Linked DNA regions of Homo sapiens. The protein of the gene in region 2 purifies or fractionates together with the protein of the main gene of each other region. This does not show direct contact. Each region holds a gene or a part of one and is shown on either strand. Other genes may lie near its edges. The genes, in order: NDUFS4 and MAT1A.

The links.
Region 1: the proteins of MAT1A (region 2) and NDUFS4 fractionate together in Homo sapiens (co-fractionation; one large-scale study listed by BioGRID). This does not show direct contact.

Annotation. Positions count from the first base shown.
Region 1 is NC_000005.10:53,566,998-53,570,814, reverse strand, and holds part of NDUFS4 (NADH dehydrogenase [ubiquinone] iron-sulfur protein 4, mitochondrial isoform 1 precursor), read right to left. Parts: intron 1-3,817. UniProt on the Homo sapiens protein: Accessory subunit of the mitochondrial membrane respiratory chain NADH dehydrogenase (Complex I), that is believed not to be involved in catalysis. Complex I functions in the transfer of electrons from NADH to the respiratory chain.
Region 2 is NC_000010.11:80,286,647-80,291,236, forward strand, and holds the start of MAT1A (S-adenosylmethionine synthase), read right to left. Parts: upstream 3,013-4,590; 5' UTR 2,778-3,012; coding exon 2,687-2,777; intron 1-2,686. UniProt on the Homo sapiens protein: Catalyzes the formation of S-adenosylmethionine from methionine and ATP. The reaction comprises two steps that are both catalyzed by the same enzyme: formation of S-adenosylmethionine (AdoMet) and triphosphate, and subsequent hydrolysis of the triphosphate.

The DNA.
Region 1 (3,817 bases), on a different chromosome or scaffold from region 2:
CTACTCAGGAGGCTGAGGCAGGACAATCACTTGAACCTGGGAGGCGGAGCTTGCAGTGAGCCAAGATCGTGCCACTGCACTCCAGCCTGGGTGACAGAGCAAGACTCTGTCTCAAAAAAAAAAAAAAAAAGAAAAAAAAATACAATACAAATGTTAACAAGGATGCAAAACAACTAAAACTTTCATATGGTGCTGGTGAAAAGCAAAATGGTACAACCACTCTGGAAAACGGTCTGAGAGTTTCTTATAAAATTAAACATACACTTAGCTATGACCCAGGAATCTTCTACCCAGGTATTTACTCTAGAGAAACAAAATCATAATTCACATAAAATCCTGTACAGAAGCTCTATTTACACTGCCAAAAACCTGAAATAATTCATATGTCCTTCAATAGGTAAATGGATAAACTGTGGTACCTCCACATAACGGAATACTACTTAGCAGTAAAAAGGAACAAACTGTCGATACATGAAACTTATATGAAGTTCAAAGGCACCAGGCTGAATAAAAAAAGACAATCTCAAAAGGTTATATATGACTACATTTATATTACAGTCTCAAAACTGTAAAACTATAAAGATGAAAAAAGATAACTGTGGACAGGGATTACAGCGGTCAGGGAAGGATAACATGAGGGAGTCTTGGGGTAATGAAGTCTTTTGGTATTCTGCACCCTGAAACAATACAGTAAAACAGTTATCTGCATATTACACTGTATTCTGTACTAGGATTATGGTGGTGGTTACACATAACCCATACATGTGTTAAAACTCTAAGAAGTATACACCAAAAGGAAAACAGTTAATTTTTCTTTATAATTTTAAAAATAATATAAAATAAATCCAACCTAGAGTCAACTTTTTTCCTTAATTCAATCTCAGCTCATGAAACTATCATCTCTGATAATCTCATTTAAATAAAAGTACAGTACATAGTTCAAAGATCAACACTGACAAAATGGAAAACATCCTAAGGGGTACCAAGAGGTAGTAAAGCGTCAGGAAATTTGATCATTAATAAAGAGTAAACAAACTGGACGTGCTAAGCCTGGAGCACAGACTTGAAGGAAGAATGAGTGATGACAAATGTCTTCAATTATCTGAAGGGCTGACAAGTGTATACGGGGTTAAACTTGTTCTATACAGTTTCAAAGAAAAACATCACTTACCAGTAAGTCTAAACGTATAGTGTGTTTTCTGGGGTTATCAGAAAGTCACCAAACTTCCTCAACAACTAGATAATCAAGAAGCAGGAAGTTCTAGGGATTCTTGCATTAAATAAAGGGTTGGACTTAATGATTCTAGAGTTTTCTTCCAACTTAAATATTACATAAATCTATGAACTATAACTCCAGAGTTAACCTACAAAGATAGAAGACACTGAACATCTAAAAAGGTAACCTTGCCTGCCAAAATATCACTTTTTATTGCACAAAAGTAAATATTACAAAGCACTTTCACATTTTTTAAAAGGTTGAATACAAAATCTGAACAAAAAGCCATATTATGAAATGTATTTTATTCCCCAAATCTCATTTGTACTACGAATATTAAAATTAAATTCAAATTACACATGTCTAAGTCTAATCTTATTAGACTTAAAAGGCAAAAGTCATAAATTTCATGCAAATTCCTGTAAGTATATTGAAGAGATCACTTGAAAAAGAAGTACTCTTTCCATACAAAGAGTGGTAGTCCTCAAAAGAGCCAAAACATCTGTATTCACTTTAAAGCTCATCAAGACAGACTGACATTTTTAGGAGAAGCATATGGCTTGCTGAACAGTCATCTAGAACAGAATCTTTTGTCCAGTAAGCCCTATTCAAGGACCATTTACTTATGTGTGAAGTGGCTGAATAAAGGAAAAAACATATTTTTGAGTCCTAGAAAACACAAAGAAATAAACTCTTCATATAGCTTTGTTTAAGAATACAGAAAATATATTGCAAAAGCAGCCAGATTTTACTCCCAGAGACAGTTCTCTCAACATTTGAAACGATTCAAACACAAAAGAGTAGAGAAGCATGAAACTTTCTTAGAGAACTACATCCAGTGAAAGACCACCTTCCTAAAAAAGCCTTTTCCATTTTAAAGGATAAAACACTTTCTTAAAATTTTGAAGGGCAGAGTTCAACAGCTGTGCTATATTAAACCTGAGCCCTTCCAAAAGGAAGAATAAGAGTCTCTAGAGAGAGAGTAATATGGCCTGCTTTCTCCAAAATTATCAAAATGCCTTTTTTCCCTCTAAGGAAACTTTCCCCAAGAAAATACCTCTTATGTGCATGGGTGAAAAGCATAAAACTTAATTTAGAATAGAAAAATATGCAAAAATGGAAGAATTTTTGTTTCTGGAAATCTCCCTGAACTCTCTCCCAAGGAAAAATATATTTCCTAAGTCTTACAAGATATAATATGGAAACTTTTTTTTTAATCCGTTTTCAGCCCTAGCTTCCCATTAGAATCACCATAGAGCTAAGCCTCAACCTAAACTTACTGAACCAATATAGACTGGGGGGCAAGGCATCTGAATTTTTTAGGCACCCAACAGATAATTTTGATGCACAAGGGTTTAAAAACCAGTGAACTGGAGAATGAGCCCATAAAAGAAAAATTAAGTCTAGTGAGTACAGACAAGAAGAAAAGGTTACCTTTGAGCAACTAACTAGTTCTAAAGAACCTAAAGTCATATTTACCTACCAAAATACTTAGTAACAGACAACAAAATAGAACTTGAAACAAGAATTCTGAATTGCTCTGTTATTAAAAGAAAAAATTTATAATAGTTTATTAAATTATTCATATGTTTAGATGAAAGTTGTTATGAAGAATGTGGTCACTGCATAATTCAGGTTCAAAAAGGTTCCATCAGGATCTATGGACTTCTACAAGCTAGAAAAGAAAAGTCACAAGAGCTCATATATTAAATATAATTATTCGTTAACCTTAAAAGAGCTCAAGTCTTTAATCATAAAAAGTAAACTTCTGCCATCATCAGAATTTCATTTAGCATACTTTGTTTTATACAAAATTCTAATAGGTTTAGTTGCTTGACATTCAAATCCATAATAAATGAAAAAGGGGTGCTAAAACTGCTAAAGGGAAGCAGACCAGTCAAGGAAGAATATAACACTATTAAAAAGCAGACACGAGAACTCAGAAAGCATAGCAGACACTGAATCGTTTTTAAAGACAACACAATACAACCGTTTTTCCTAATCACTGGAATCAGTAAGAAAACAGAAAAAAAAAATGTCCAGTATATCTTGTTATATATATTTTTTAAGAGCGTAAAAAAGTATAATAAGTCACCTATGAAAAGTCCCTTACCAAAAATAATTACAAAATTTAGGGGAAAAAATCATTAGCTTAAAAAAGTAAACAACTAATTGTGCATTTGGTAACTCTCACTGTACAAATGGAACCATGCAGCAACAGTAAAGATAAGAGCATTCCATGGTCTCTCAAATAAAGAAGACACTTGGCTAAAAGGCAGAAAAAACAGAGAGGACATTAGGGTTTGAACTGATTATTACCAGACATAATATTCCTCACTGCAAAAGTGAACATATTCATTTAGACTGCTATATCAGACTACAGTCAACCCTCTGCATCTGTGGGTTCCACATCATAATTCAACCAACCTCAGATTTAAAATATTAAGGGGTGCTGGGCTCAGTGGCTCACGCCTGTAATTCCAGCACTTTGGGAGGTCGAGGCAGGTGGATCACGAGGTCAGGAGTTTGAGACCAGCCTGACCAACATGGTGAAACCCCGTCTCTAATTAAAATACAAAGAAATTATCCAGGCGTGGTGGT
Region 2 (4,590 bases):
GTGCTTGTAGGAAAATCTACTCTTGCTTTGGGGTTATGCAAACTGTCAATATCTACAAATTAAGAAATAAAAGTGATCTCTATCTACATATATTATAGCTCATTCAGTGTTAAAAATACCCACAGTCTGCTCTTAATAGAGTAATATGTTTTTGTTAAGAATCCAGATCCAGAATCAAGCAGTTTGGCTCTCAAAAGCAGATGTTAAATTCTGTAATTAAAGATATTCATTAATTCCTTAATCTTTCCTTTAGAAACTACTGCTAAACATATGTTTGAGGTTGTGTTTTGTTTGTTTGTTTGTTTGTTTAATCTAGCCTCCTGCCAGTGGCAGACCCTGGTAGTACCTTTAGGTTTGTCTGAGCCCTTAGCCTCTACACACTTCTACCACTGAAGGCCTCTCGCTGATAAAATATCCTAAAATAAATACATGCTGGCCACCTTAGGCTTACCCATCAGAGTTCCTAGAAGCTTGCTGACTGATCATTGATTGTGAATGTCTCTGCCTGTGCAGACACAGCTCACAGGCTCCCACTCTGCCTAGGGAAATCCAACAGGAGAAGGAACAAAGCTGGAGTCCAGCAGGGGCTTCCAGATAGCACCACACACAAGACAATGCCCAAGGAGGTTGTTTCTGAATTGTTTTTGTTTTTGTTTTGGCTTTCAAAATTTTTATCAATATCACTTAGTAGGCTTAAGATAGCCAATAGTTGTTTTTTTGGAAAACCAGAGAAGAAAACCTTTATCTTTCTAGCAGAGAGGAATTCAGCAATGGAATGACAAGCAGAAAGTCACCTAGCCTCCATGGAAACTGACTTACCTGGACAATTACAATGGCAAGTACAAGGGACGATTAGACAAATTGATTGGCTGTCATTAAGTATACAAAACAATCAATTGATTGGCTGGCACGTTCATTCTCAGTCCTCTGAGCACATTGCTGCTGCGCACAATGGACCATTCTTGGGACCACTAGCCGCTGCATGCCAAAAAACCCACTTCCTCCGGGTGGAGTGAATCTTTCTCCTAACCTATACATGAGGCTCATAGCCATGGAGCTGATCAGAATGTGTCAGAAATCAGCAATGTATCTGAGATTGAAAATACAGTAAACCTAGATACTTTATACAGTTATGCACAATGAAAGAGGCTATTTACATTGAACTGAGCTAAGTCACATAAAAAACTCAATTCAATTCAAGGTTTTTCAACAGCTGCACTATTAACATTTTGGGCCAGATAATTCTTGAGAGGCTGTCCTGTGCACTGTAGGATGCTTAGCAGTGTGCCTGACCTCTACTCAATACATGGCAGTAGCACCTTACCCCCACCTCCTATAGTTGTGATAACTGCAAATGTCTCCAGACAGTACAAAATGCTCTTGGGGGTTGTGGGGCAAAACTGCCACCAGTCAAAAACCACTGGCTAAAGTATATGGAAGGAGTAGTGCACTGAGGTGTCCAAAGCCAAGTTACAAGGTAGGAAAGATAAATATCTTTGAGGAAGAACAAGAGCAAGGAAGATGGAAAAAGGCAGACTTGGCAATAAGTTAGCAAACACTCGAATGAATTTTGAAGAGGGACTTAACTATAGAAGTCTGTACATCTATCCCCCAGGGGTCTCCAAGAGCAGTGGTTCTCACCCCAGAGCATCAGCATCTCCTGGGAACTTGTCAAAAATGCAAATTCTCGAGCCTCTCCCAAGACCTACTGAATCAGAAACTCTGGAGGGTGGGGCCCAGCCCTCTGTTGTCTTGACAAGCCCTCTGGGGGATTCTGAAGCTCCCTGAAGTTTGAGAACCACTGTCCTACACTTGAGGCTCTGAATGTCCTGGTCCTAGTTCTCACCGTCATCAAGGAAGCTTCTCTCACTTCCGCACATCACAGTCTACCTACTTTTCAGGGACCAAAATCAATGCCTAAATTTTCTTCCTGTTTAGAAGGTCTTCTATTCTGCTCTTAGAGAACGTTACTGAGTCCCCAGCACCTAGAGGTCTACCCCAGCAGTGACCAGGGTGCAGGCTTTCATGCCTAAGTTGCACATGCTTCACATGCAAAATTTAGTCACCCATGGTCTTGTTTCAGGAACATTCCCTGTTGACTTAAATTGGCCATGGATAATAGATTAAAGCTTTCCTAAAAAAAAAATACATATAAAAAGTTAAGACCTGATCATATATTTTGCATGTGTCATACTCTTAGCCAGCCAGCTGCTACTCCCTGTCTTGGACCCACTGTGCTGGCGTGCTGGTGGTGGGCCACAGCACGGCTTCATCAGGAGGGACTGTTTTATGAAACTACTCCATGCTGTTTCTCTAGAGATCCCTTCTGGTAACTCACACACATTGCTCTGAAGAGCTCTGGTAAAAGTGACTCCTACAGGTACGAAGTTACAGTCAGATAGGAGGAATGAGCTCTGGCATTCCATTGCGCAGTAGGGTGACTGAAGGGCTAGAAGAGGGAATTTTGAATGTTTTCACCACAAAGAAGTAGTCAATGTCTGTGGCAATGGGTATGCCCATTATCCTAATTTGATCATTAAATGTTATACTCATGGATCAAAACAACACACGGTACCCCATAAATATGCACAATTATTATGTGTCAAATTAAAACCATTTGTAAGTGACTCCCTCAGTATAGGCTTGGAATGATCGTTTTCCAGTCAGTCCAAGACAGCCTACTTACCCGGGTGTCCCTCTCCCACAGACTCCGATGTGAACATGAAGACTCCTTCACTTAGAGAGTGGTCACACAAGCCATCCACCGGTCCATTCATCTTCTCACACTTCTCCACTCACGCTTCTTTCAGTGAACAATTTTGAGGCTGTGACTTTGCCTGAGTTTTTTTTTCTTCTTCTTCTTCTTCTTTCAACCCAACAGGCTTGTCTTTGGCAGAGCCACGGGGATCACTTCTGCCTAACTGCCTGTGAGCACGTGAGAACAGGCGAGGACTGCTGAGAAGGGAGGGAGTGGATGGAACACGGGATGTGTCCCTCCCTCCAGCTTGCCACAGCTTGCTCCTGAGCGACTCCTATATATGGAAAAGCGAAAGTGCCTGAAAAATCATGTGAGAAAATTGGAGGAGTCCATTTCCTAAGAGGGGGGTCTTCTTACCTGGAGGAATTTCAATTCTTATCCCTGACTTTCCAAACTCTAAGCACCTGGTCAAGGTAAGGTAAAGAAGGCTGTATAGTTCTGCAGAATTGAAGCTCCTTTGGGACTCTCCTTCAGCTCTTAGCCAATCTTGGTAGTGCTCCAGAGTTCACAACCCACCTTGGAGAGCAGGGGTCTGTGATCACCCAGAGATACAAGCAGGCAACAAGAAACTCTTTCTCAGAGATATGGTTTAGGCTAAGATTGCAACAGTGCCTTTGCTGTTGGGTGTCCCCTCCTCCCCTGCGTCTCATCTGGATTGGTCTCTTCCCATTCTATCTTCTCAGGGAGAGCAGGAGCACGCACCTGTATTCTGAGCCAGCTGTGATGTTACACAACAGATTCATTTTAGAGGAAAAGCTTTGAGTCCACGTGTTTCTGCTAACAGAAACCACCTAACCTGTCAACTTCTCTAAAAGGCTGGCAGGCATTTTAACAAGCAAGATCTTTAAAAAGTATCTATCTGGGGAGGTTACAGAGAACAATGTGTGTGTGTGTGTGTGTGTGTGTGTGTTTTTTTTAGAAAAAAATGCTTTTGAGAAATGGATTCATTACAGGGAAATTATCAAAGTCCAGTTTCCCAAAGCTTCCGGATTATAAACATCTACATATTCAGTTCTATACATGTAATAAACATCGTGTTCACATAACTCTTGCATTATTTTTTGCTTTGACCAAAAAAAGTAGTAAACAGGATTATATCTTTAGTTCATGTACTAAATGACAGCGTCTCACACTCTCAGATCCAGCTGCATCCTCAGACCCAAGGAACAATGGGGAATTGAGACCACAGAAAATGAGGATGGGTGGAGAAACCAGTTCCCACTAGAATGCAATAAAAAGTAATCAACCATAACCTTGTGCATCAAAGCTTGGACTGTGGGAAGCAAAAGTTAGGAAGCAATAGCCTCACCTAACAATTCTGGTGACCAAACCCCCCTCTGAGTTTATTATCAAGCATTTGGAAAAATTTTTTCTGGCACACATTCTGGTGCTCCAAAGCTTGAGTTTTGCTAACTGATGACCAAACATCATCCCTTCAGGGAATTAAAGCAGTATTAAGGTGACCTCTTCTGGAATAAAGTAAGGGATGTTACATATGCATAGCCAATCAACGGCATTTAACAAGGAGTGAACTGAAGTGCTTAGGCACAAGACTGTTGAAAGTTCAGAGAGGAAAAGGCCACTGGGAAGGGATGGACAAACGAGGAATCAAATAGGGACTTTAGACAACATCGCCTTGTCATTGCCAGCACACAGGACTCCTCTGTTTGCACTTAAGCTATTTCAACATTGCTGGCCCTTAGTAAATTTCTTCTGGGTACATTAGTTTTAAACCTAGAGGCAATATGAGCTAATGTTTAATTTGAACTGTAGAACTAGGTGACCTTAGCAGTTAAAATTGTATGATAACAATTATGGTCCAAATTTGATTT